3 linked regions of the Homo sapiens genome follow. The protein of the gene in region 1 interacts with the protein of each later gene in a pairwise test. Each region holds a gene or a part of one and is shown in the gene's direction. Other genes may lie near its edges. The genes, in order: TMTC1, alpha-crystallin A2 chain and GSN.

What was found.
Region 2: the proteins of TMTC1 (region 1) and alpha-crystallin A2 chain interact in binary tests that used the Homo sapiens proteins (3 or more experiments, as listed by UniProt).
Region 3: the proteins of TMTC1 (region 1) and GSN interact in binary tests that used the Homo sapiens proteins (3 or more experiments, as listed by UniProt).

What each region holds. Positions count from the first base shown.
Region 1 is NC_000012.12:29,514,841-29,518,492, reverse strand, and holds part of TMTC1 (protein O-mannosyl-transferase TMTC1), read left to right. Parts: coding exon 1-21; intron 22-921; coding exon 922-1,066; intron 1,067-2,006; coding exon 2,007-2,144; intron 2,145-3,652. UniProt on the Homo sapiens protein: Transfers mannosyl residues to the hydroxyl group of serine or threonine residues.
Region 2 is NC_000021.9:6,502,061-6,505,712, forward strand, and holds part of alpha-crystallin A2 chain, read left to right. Parts: intron 1-3,652. UniProt on the Homo sapiens protein: Contributes to the transparency and refractive index of the lens. In its oxidized form (absence of intramolecular disulfide bond), acts as a chaperone, preventing aggregation of various proteins under a wide range of stress conditions.
Region 3 is NC_000009.12:121,271,074-121,274,725, forward strand, and holds part of GSN (gelsolin), read left to right. Parts: intron 1-736; exon of another isoform or gene 737-790; intron 791-3,652. UniProt on the Homo sapiens protein: Calcium-regulated, actin-modulating protein that binds to the plus (or barbed) ends of actin monomers or filaments, preventing monomer exchange (end-blocking or capping).

The sequences.
Region 1 (3,652 bases):
GGCTGAAGAATGGTACAAGCGGTAAAGTTCCCTTTCTTTTCTTTATAAGTTGCCCAGGAACCTCAGCAATCACTCATCAGCTTCTTAGTTAATCAGAATAGGTGTGCTCTCAGAATACTAGCAAATTTTGCCAATTCAGGTGATACAAATTTTTATCTCCAAAGAAAGCAACCACAATATAAATGGGATCATAATTCATGACTTTGGCTTGCTGGTTAGACTATAGTGCTGAACCAAGGTTGAAATTTAATTCCCACTTTAGTCAGTTTGTTGTTTTCTGAAGCCATGGATTGCAACCCCAATCATAAACAGCAATTTAAAAAATGAGGATACATGAAAAACTATGCACACATGAGAACAAATTCATCATAATTAATGAGAAAGACCCTTGGGGCTCAGTTTCCATATTGATAGGTCAATAAGACATTCTTACGTTCCAACTATGGCATCATGATCATTTTGTAAAAACCTTGTTCTTGGCCAGGTGCGGTGGCTCATGCCTGTAATCCCAGCACTTTGGGAGGCCAAGATGGTCGAATCACCTGAGGTCAGATGTTCAAGACCAACTTGGCCAACATGGTGAAACCTCGTCTCTACTAAAAGTACAAAAATTAGCCGGGCATGATGGCGGGCACCTGTAATCCCTGCTACTCAGGAGGCTGAGGCAGGAGAATCACTTGAACCTGGGAGGTGGAGGTTGCATGAGCCAAGATTGTGCCACTGCACTCCAGCCTGGGTGACAGAGTGAGACTCTGTCTCAAAAAAAAAGAAAAAGCCAAAAACCTTGTTATTGATATAAAAACAAAGACCGTATTGGAGCAGAGGTTCAAACCATGGACCGTCTTCCCTAAATCTAAGCCTAGACATTTGGAAATGTACCTATTAGAAGAGAAATGTCATTTAGATTTTCTCCAAACTCAGCGCCCTGCAGGTGGCACACAAAGCTGAGATATTGTCACCTTTGGGAGCACTGTATTACAACACTGGCCGATACGAAGAGGCTTTGCAGATTTACCAGGAAGCTGCAGCACTTCAGCCTTCTCAGAGGGAGCTCCGCTTGGCACTGGTGAGTAGGATGAAAGAAAATGAAGCTGGCAACCTAAGCACAGGCAGCCATAGAGAGAGCTGTAGTCCTCACGCCTCAAAACTGGAGCTGGAATGCCGTAATATATCCACTGTATGAATATTCATACAGCTAATGTTAGAGCCATTCTCTAAAGACATGGACACCAAAAATACTGCATTTTTGTTTTGAAATAACTTCAAACTTATGAAAGTGTTGCAAGAATAGTAAAAAATTTACATATACCCTTTCATCCAGCTCCAATGATTTGTAACATTTTGATTCATTTATCACTCCATTGTGTATGCATATGTAGATGTATATGTACCTACATGTATATGTGTGCATATTTAGATATGTATGTTTGTATATACCTATTATTAGTGTGTGTTATTTTTTTCCTGAACCATGTGGGAATTAGTTGTATATATCATTCCCCTTTATCTCTAAATACCTTTGCAAATAGTTTCTAAGAAGGACATTCTCTAACATAACCACAGTGTATTTATTAGACTCAGGAAAATTAACATTCATACCAACAAAATTTTTATTTCAGTGTTTGGAACTTCACTCATCCTTTTCCTTAGATGTGCAATAAATCAAATTTGTTATCTTGCTGTAAACACACTGTTCTGATGAAATCAGAGGAAATTCTTTCTCTTCTGACTTATTTGGTCAACCTTTTTTAAAAGCCACAAGCCATTTCACTGGATATATTTAGTGTTTCTGCCACTCACTCACAAATGCATGCACAAAACTAAATAAAGAAACAAACAGCAAAAAGTCAAAACCTGAAAACTGGTGATTCAGCCTTCTCTATGAGTCACTAAATTGATGCTGAGCATGTTTGTCAGGAGTGCGTTCTGAATGCTTCTATTCAGGGATGCTTTATTTGATAAGGTAATGAAGTCTCTGCTAAGCCAAGGTCCATGTGGTTTTGTAGGCTCAGGTTTTGGCCGTGATGGGTCAGACAAAAGAAGCTGAAAAGATGACCAATCACATTGTGTCAGAGGAGACCGGATGCCTTGAATGCTATCGCCTCTTGTCAGCCATCTATAGCAAGCAGGAGAACCACGACAAGGTAAAGAAGGACATTGTTTAGAGTTCTTTGGATTCATAGGTTAAACATGGGGTGCACCTAAGTGATTCTCCAGTTTGCGTGTTTATAAGCCTGGGAAATCTTAAATCTTATCCGTCAGCATATCCTATCTCTTGGAAACTTTTCACAGATATCCCCTTAACACCTAAGATGTCCCCTTGTAATAATATTTTTCTTGGCTTATCTTTGGTGTAAAGCTTTTATGTGGTATTGTCTTAGTTTGTTTTCAGCTAAGTCTATAAAGATCAAGACCAACATTTATATGCTTTATTATTTTGTATTTTCCTTCTTATATATTGTTTTATGTAATCCTCATAACAACCATGCTTTACAGGGTTGTTATGAGGATTACATAAAACAATATAGAAGAGGAATATATAGGAAGATTACATGAAACAATATATAAGAAGGAAACACAGGGTGACCCAATGTCACAACTGTTATTATCTCCATTTTAAAAGTCACATAATCAGTAAATTTATAAACTGACTCAATGAAGTAATTGTTGAAGGCCCACTATGTCCTGGCCACTGTAGTAGGCATCAGAAATAAAGTGGTATGAAAAAAAAAAAAAAAAGTCACTGCCCTTGTCTTCATGGAGCTAACCCATAGAGAAGGAGATTAAACAGGTACTCACAAAACAAATGTAGAGTGATAGCTGTGCCCAGGAATATCATGAAGCGCTACCTCTCCCAAAGAGCATATAATCAGGGGACCCGATGAGTCTGGGAGGCCAGGTCTCCCTGTAAAGTGATGTGGAGGTGAGGGCTGGATGAAGAATAAGAGTTGTTAGGCAGAGGAAGAAGCAAGGAGGATTCTGGGCAGGGAAACGCACATGCAAAGCCCTGTGGCAGCAGTGAGGGGCCTCTCTGAGGAATGGGAGTGAGGGAGCAGGAGCACCGTAGGAACGCAAGCACAGGCTGCTGGGAGGAGACTCCTTGGGGCCAGGCCAAGGGTTTTGTTCCTTACCATGGGAGAAGCTTTGGGTTTTTGTGGAGAGGAGGAACATGATCAGATATTTGCTTTGAAGGGATCTTTGGCTGCAGTGGGGTCAGTGGGTGCTGGGGGCAGAATGGTCACTAGGACCTGAGAGGGGCTGGTGGGGTGGTCCAGATGAACACATGGTCAGGGAAAACGTCTGATGCCAAATCTTGTTTTCTTTCAACTGTATCACACCACCTCCCTGTAAAGTAATCAAGGATATTTTATTGCCACTCATCGATACGTGGGAAAACTGGAGTGTAAGAAAGTTATTTTGTCAGGGCCACTAATTCCCAGTGAGAAAATCAAAGATAATGAAGAATGTATATATATTTGAGACAAGGTCTTCCTCTGTTGCCCAGGCTGGAGTGCAGTGGCATGATCTCACCTCACTACAAGGTCCACCTCCCAGGGCTCAAGAGATCCTCCCATCTCAGCCCCCCCAGTAGCCGGGATTACAGGTGTGCACCACCACACCTGGCTAATTTTTGTATTTTTTTGTAGAGACA
Region 2 (3,652 bases), on another chromosome or scaffold:
TTTGCTTGTCTTTTTACAGTTTGCAGCCTTTTCTCTCATTCGAAATTTGGTCAAGGAGAAAGTGTCATCTTTAAAACTGGCCATATTCTGAAACTTGGTTCAACTGACAAATCTAAACATTCTTCTTCTTCTTCTTTTTTTTTTTTTTTTTTTTTTTTTGAGACAGAGTCTCGCTCTGTCGCCCAGGCTGGAGTGCAGTGGCATGATCTCGGCTCACTGCAACCTCTGCCTCCTCAGTTCAGGCAGTTCTCTGCCTCAGCCTTCTAAGTAGCTGGGATTAGAGGCGCCTGCCACCATGCCCTGCTAATTTTTTGTATTTTTAGTAGAGTTGGGGTTTCACCATCTTGGCCAAGCTGATCTTGAACTCCTGACCTCGTGATCCCCCTGCCTCGGCCTTCCAAAGTGCTGGGATTACAGGCGTGAGTCACCGCGCTTGGCCATTTTCTTCTTTAGTGACCAAAATTCCTCCCCTTAGGCATTTTTGGTCATTCAGAAGGAAAATCTAAATTATGGACACTTGTGCTTCTAGAGCAGACATGCATCTGCAGAGACGGCAGCTGGATTCGTGGACAATGCTTATGGTGCCACCTTCTGTCAGTATCTAGAAACATGGTCTCACTTAACCCGTGAAGACCCCAGACTATAATAGCTAAAATGGGGCGCCTTTAAAGTAACTAGTTTATGCACTCAATAGGAAAAATCTGCATCTAAAATTTAAAAACTGAGAGAGCTATTTTTCAATGATACTTAGAAGCTTCTAAAAGAAGTTCTGATGAAGTCATTTCTTTGCAAGAAGAAAACAGAAGATTATCTGAAACTATTTCTTTTGTTTGTTTGTTTTGAGACAGAGTCTTGCTCTGTTACCCAGGCTGGAGTGCATTGGCGTGATCTTGGCTCACTGCAACCTCTGCCTCCCAGGTTCAAACGATTCTTCTGAGCTGGGATTACAGGCATCCCCCACCTTGCCTCGCAATTTTTTTTTTTTTTTTTTTGAGACAGAGTTTCATTCTTGTTGCCCAGGCTAGAGTGCAGTGGCACGATCTCAGCTTGTTGCAACCTCCCCCTCCCGGGTTCAAGCGATTCTTCTGCCTCAGCCTCCCAGTAGCTGGGATTACAGACACCCACCACCATGCCTGGCTAATGTTTTGTGTTTTTAGTAGAGACAGGGTTTCACCATGTAGGCCAGGCTGGTCTCGAACTTCTGATCTCAGGTGATCCACCAGCCTTGGCCTCCCAAAGTGCTGGGATTACAGGTGTGAGCCACCACGCCCAGCCATCCACAGTTCTTTTTAAAATTTAGAAGTAGTTTCAGGCTGGGTGAGGTGGCTCACACCTGTAATCCCAGCACTTTGGGAGGCCAAGGTGGGTGGATCACGAGGTCAGGAGTTCAAGACCAGCCTGGCCAAGATGGTGAAACCTCATCTCTATTAAAAATACAAAAATTAGCCGGGCATGGTGGCGGGCGCCTGTAATCCCAGCTACTTGGGAGGCTGAGGCAGAGAATCACATGAAACCCAGGAAGCGGAGGTTGCAGTGAGCCAAGATGGCGCCACTGTACTCCAGCCTGGGTGACAGAGTGAGACTCTGTCTCAAAACAAAAACAAAAACAAACAAACAAAAAGACCATGGAGGCTTTCTCCTGTTTGTTTCCAGCTGCTGCTTCTCCTTCTGCCTCTGGGATGATCTAAACTCATCTCTTTCTGCCTGTTCCCTCAGCTCCCATACATCTCTTAAGCAGTGTTTTTGGAATTCCACAATGCACACATTTCCTTCTCTCAAAAAGGGGAAAGTATATTTAAATTTGGAACAGACTGGGTGCGGTGGCTCACACCTGTAATCCCAGCACTTTGGGAGGCCAAATTGGGCAGATCACCTGAGGTCAGGAGTTCGAGACCAGCCTGGCCAACAGGGTGAAAACCCGTCTCTACTAAAAATAAAAAAAGATTAGCGGGGAGTGGCTGCGGGCTCCTGTAATCCCAGCTACTTGGGAGACTGAGGCAGGAGAATCACTTGAATCCGGGAGGCAGAGGTCGCAGTGAGCCGAGACGGCGCTATCGCACTCCAGCCTGGGCGACAAGAAGGAAACTGCGTCTCAAAAAAACCCAAAACAACAACAACAACAAAAATAAAAAATAAAAAATAAAAGAAATAGGCCAGAAAAGAAATGTTAGCTCAAGCCTGTAATCCCAACACTTTGGGAGGCCAAGGCTGGTGGATCACATGAGGTCAGGAGTTCAAGACCAGTCTGGCCAACATGGTGAAACCCCATCTCTACTAAAAACACATGTGGTGGCATGTACCTGTATTCCCAGCTACTCGGGAGGCTGAGGCAGGAGAATCGCTTGAACCCAGTAGGTGGAGGTTGCAGTAAGCTGAGATGGTGCCACTGCACTCCAGCCTGGGCGACAGAGCGAGATGCTGCCAAAAAGAAAAAGAAAAAGAGAAAGGAAGGGAGGGAAGGAGGGAGGGAAATTAAAAAAATAAAATGCTAACATCCAGGGAATTAGTTCAGCTGAGATCAGATCTGAAACAAGTCAAAACCCTTTAAATGCTCAAACTGCCTGCTCTGGAGCCCCTGCAGGGTTTGTCAGTGCTCCAGCCTGTGGGCCAGAGGCTATGAGTCTCTACAAACATGAGGCTATGTTTGCAGCCTGGGTTCAATTTCCAGTCCTGTTTTTTTTTTTTTTTTTTGAGACGGAGTCTTGCTGTGTTGCCCATGCTGGAGTGCAGTGGCATGATCTCGGCTCAGTGCAGCCTCCGCCTTCCAGGTTCCAGCAGTTCTCCTGCCTCAGCCTCCCGAGTAGCTGGGATTATAGGTGCCCACCACCACGCCCAGCTAATTTTTTGTATTTTTAGTACAGACAGGGTTTCACCATGTTGGCCAGGCTGGTCTTGAACTCCTGACCTCAGGTGATCTGCCTGCCTCGGCCTCCCAAAGTGCTGGGATTACAGGTGTGAGCCACCGCGCCTGGCCTTCTTTTTTTTTTTTTTTTTTTTTTGAGATGGAGTTTCGCTCTCGTCACCCAGGCTGGAGTGCAATGGCATGGTCTAAGCTCACTGCAACCTCCACCTCTCAGGTTCAGTCAATTCTTCTGCCTCAGCCTCCCAAGTAGGTGGGATTACAGGTGCTCACCACCACGCCTGGCTAATTTTTGTGTTTTTAGTAGAGATGGGGTTTCACCATGTTGGCCAGGCTGGTCTCGAACTCCTGACGTCAAGTGATCCACCCACCTCAGCTTCCCAAAGTGCTGGGATTACAGGTGTGAGCAGCAAGATTTCTTTTTCTGAGCTGTCTTTAGAGTGGTTCTGACGCTTAGGAAGACTGCTTTGCATTTCTTTGGAGATGCTTGGTTCAGCCTTGGTTAAGTCATGACCTTCGTTATGCCATTACCTTGGTTAAATCTTTGTTTTTGAGATGGAGTCTCGCTGTGTCACCCAAGCTGGAGTGCAGTGGTGCGATCTTGGCTCACTGCAACCTCTGTCTCCTGGGTTGAAGCAATTCTCCTGCCTTAGCCTCCCGAGTAGCTGGGATGACAGGTGCATGCCACCACACCTGGCTAATTTACCTTGGTTAAGTCTCACTGGTTTTGTGAGTAACTTGAAAATGTCCATTTCGTTTTTTTTTTTGAGATGGAGTTTCGCTCTCATTGCC
Region 3 (3,652 bases), on another chromosome or scaffold:
AAAAGCTATCTTTTAACTGGGCATGGTGGCTCACACCTGCAGTTCCAGCATTTTGGGAGGCCGAGTTGGGTTGATGGCTTAAGCCAGGAGTTTGAGACCAGCCTGGTCAACATGGTGAAACCCTGTCTCTACTGAAAATACGTGCTGGGATGCTCCTGTAATCCTAGCTACTTGGGAGGCTGAGGTATGAGAATTGCTTAAACCCTGGAGACGGAGGTTACAGTAAGCTGAAATCACGCCACTGCACTCCAGCCTGGATGACAGAACAATACTGTCTCAAAACAAAAAAAGAAAAGACAAAAAAAGCTATCTTTTAATATACCAAGCACTGGAACATTAATTACTTTATTGATTCCTTGCAACCATTCCTCTGAGGTAGATACTAGTATCTTCTTTTACAGATGAGGAAACTGAGTCCGAGGCTGAATAACATGCCCCGGGTTGTGTGGCTATTGGGTGATGGTGCAAGGATTCCAGAGGTCTGACGACAGAGCCATAGCTATTAATGACAGCACTAAACATTCTCTTGAAAATTCTTTCTAGTCCTGGTATTAGGAGAACTGGTAAGGGAGTTTGTTATGCTTTTATGAGGGGTGGGTGTCGGTGTGCAGAGCTTGGAGAGCTCAGCCCTGCAGCAGAGAGGCCTGGAGGGGCCTCCCGGGGCTGTTTGTAAACTCATGCTTTCCTGTGCCATCCGCAGGACCCTCAGTGCAGGTCAATCTCCCCTCCATTTCAGGGAATCCAGGCTCCAAAAGGACACAGGACTTGCCCAGCAAGGTCATGTGGTGAGGTGAGAGCCCAGCCAGGACTGGTCCCCCCTTTTCATCAATCAAGCTTATGCTCTGGAAATCTATCTGGCGAAGCCAGGAAAACTGGACACTCTCCTGCTCCTTGGTTATTCCCTGAGAAAATGCCAGCAGAAGCAGAGAAAAGCACGTCCCAGGGGTTATGCATTTTGGGGAGGAAGGGAAAAAAAGAGACCAGTGTTTAGGCAGCCGGGGGATGTTAAGTAAAAATATCTCCTCGCTTTCAACGGAGTGAGCGTGTGTCATATTTCAGCCTGATGTGGTTTGTGAAGTTGGAGACCACAGGCAGGCTCAGTTCCTGCTGCTGGCCAGCTTCCCCTTCCCTCTGTCCCTCCCCTGCCATATGCCTGCTCTCGTCTGCCCTGCCTGGGACCACATCAGCAATTTAAGAATAGGGCAGAGAAAAGCAGTGGGTGTTGTGGGCAAGGGTAGGCAGCTGAAGGCCTGGGCTTGGGTCCTGGCTTTGCCAGTGACAAAGTACTGGGTGACTTGGGCTAATGCATGCCTTTCTCTGGGCCCCAGTGTCCATTCTGCACTGTAGGGTGGACAGCATAATGTCAGCCTTCCCAGCTCTGATGGCCTCTGAGTTGGAGGGCTTTGTGCTCCCCACATGTACTTGGGTCCGGCATGTCTGAGACACAAAGTGAGCCCGCAGTGGTGCAACTGGTGATTCAGCTACTGTTCTTGAATTTAATCTTTTCGGACTGAATTGATTGCCCCATTTTGCAGATAAGGGAGTTGAGGCCTAGGATTTGTTGATGTATCCCATTCCCTGCTCTACAAGCAACAATAATAAGGGCCACCATATGTAACACACTTACTATGTATGTTCACCTTTTGCTTTCACTATCTGCTTTAATCTTTTAACAGATCTACGAGGGGAGAGATAGTGACTCCATTTTACAGATGAGGAAACTGAGGCTCAGTTTAGAAAAATGAAAGGACTTACGTTCTCTTCTTTGAGTCTCACAATAGTCCTGGGGTTGTCATTATGTGACCCATTTTACCAGTGAGGAAACTCAGGCCTGGAGACGTGAGCTCCTTTGCCCAGGGGTCCCCAGGGCCCACACACAGCCTGTCAGGTTCCTTCCCAGGCCCTCCTGCTCCTCCCTCCTCCCTTGCTTGCTCTGCCTCATGGGGAGCCTCTTCACCTCTTGCATTCAGTGCCTGGGTTAAGGGATGAGAACAGTTTTCTTCCTGGGCTATAAAGTATCCCTGAAATTGACTCTTCCCAAGAGTGATCCAGAAAGGCTTTAAGCCATGGAGCCTCGCAGGGAACTCCAGTGAAGGGGTCGCACCAGTGGGAGTGGATTCGTTTATTCTGCTGAGCTGGCTAAGCAAACAGTCCTGTTATTTTCCAACCTCAATAAGAATATCATCAGAGCCAAGCTTATTTGCCAAGCAAAGTATATATATTCTACATATGTGAGCCTTCAGGGTGGGGCTTGGCCCTTAATTTCCCTGCTACAGAGACTGTGGCTGAGCTGGGTTTTGGTGGGTACTAAGTAAATACTAGTTAACTTGTTGGGTGTGTGTTGATGATGTGGGTGGCATATGTACTTTTTTCTCCCCACCTCCAAGGACCTTTTCCCCCCACCCTTATTATTTCTATTACACTTGTGATAGAAAATTTAGGAAATAAAAAAGTATATATATAAAAAAGAAGTGTTCATAACTAACCAGAGAAAATCACTGCCAACACCTGGGTGCCCTTCCTTCCTGATATTTTCAGTGCATTTTTTTTTACCCCCACACAATTATCCTATATTTATAATTGTCTGTTCTGACTTTCTGTTTTTTCTCAACATTATATCGTAAGTATTTTTCTCATGTTATTAAGGATTCTTTTTAAATTTAATTTTTAAAAGTTTTAAAAGCATACTATACCTAAGTAGATAAATGTTTATTCTAATTTAAATCTTTTATTCCAATAGTCCTAGGGATTAAAAAATGAAATAATGCTTTTTATTTATTAACAAAAAGGCTGAGAGAAACAGGATTTGCCCAAGATCACCCCCAAAGAACCAAGACTGGGGCTCCCCAGGGCTGTAGTTTGCATCCATAAATACAGAGAGAATAATGTTTATAATCTTGGGTATAAAAACTTCTGGTGAAAAGGTTGATCAAATGCTAGCTGTATTTCTCCCCCTTCCATGGCTTTCTACTGAGTCTCTCTCTCCTACAGGACCCTACTTTGCTCCATAATTAAGCAGCAAAGTATTTCAAGAGCTGTTCAGATTCTAGAAACTCATAGCAGATGAAATCGACAGATAAGTCAGATATCGAATATAGACATTAAAAGATCTGGGCACTAGGCTGTACCCTGTTATTGTCAGTGGCTCTTTAGTCCTTAAACAAGGGTCTTGCCTCCTACTTTTTTTTTGTTATGGTAGAAATAAATGCCCACCCGAGTTTTCATCACTCACTATTATTCTATCTTTGGTGTGCCTGTACCATGTTCCCTTAACAATCCTCAATTATGAAACATTTAGGCAGTTTATAAACAATACTGCAATGAACAACCTAGTGCATACTTTTTTTGTGTGTTCTTCTTTTATTATTTCCTAGAAGTGAGCCCTAGAAATGGAGTTCCTGAGTCAAAATGACACATTTTATAGCTTTTTCTTGTTAAAAAAAAAATTCAGTGACACTTGTGAAAACACGGTAAGGAAGTCTTTATTCAGGAACATTGCCTTGGGCATAGGGACCACTGCAACAGGGTCCTACAGTGAGGGAGAGAGTTTGGGCTCAACTCCTAATACAGCATGGGCGAGTGGGAATTGATAGCTGCAGAGCAGGGTAGGGGTCAGCGGATGGAAAATTACTAAGAGGAAGCTCAGGAATAA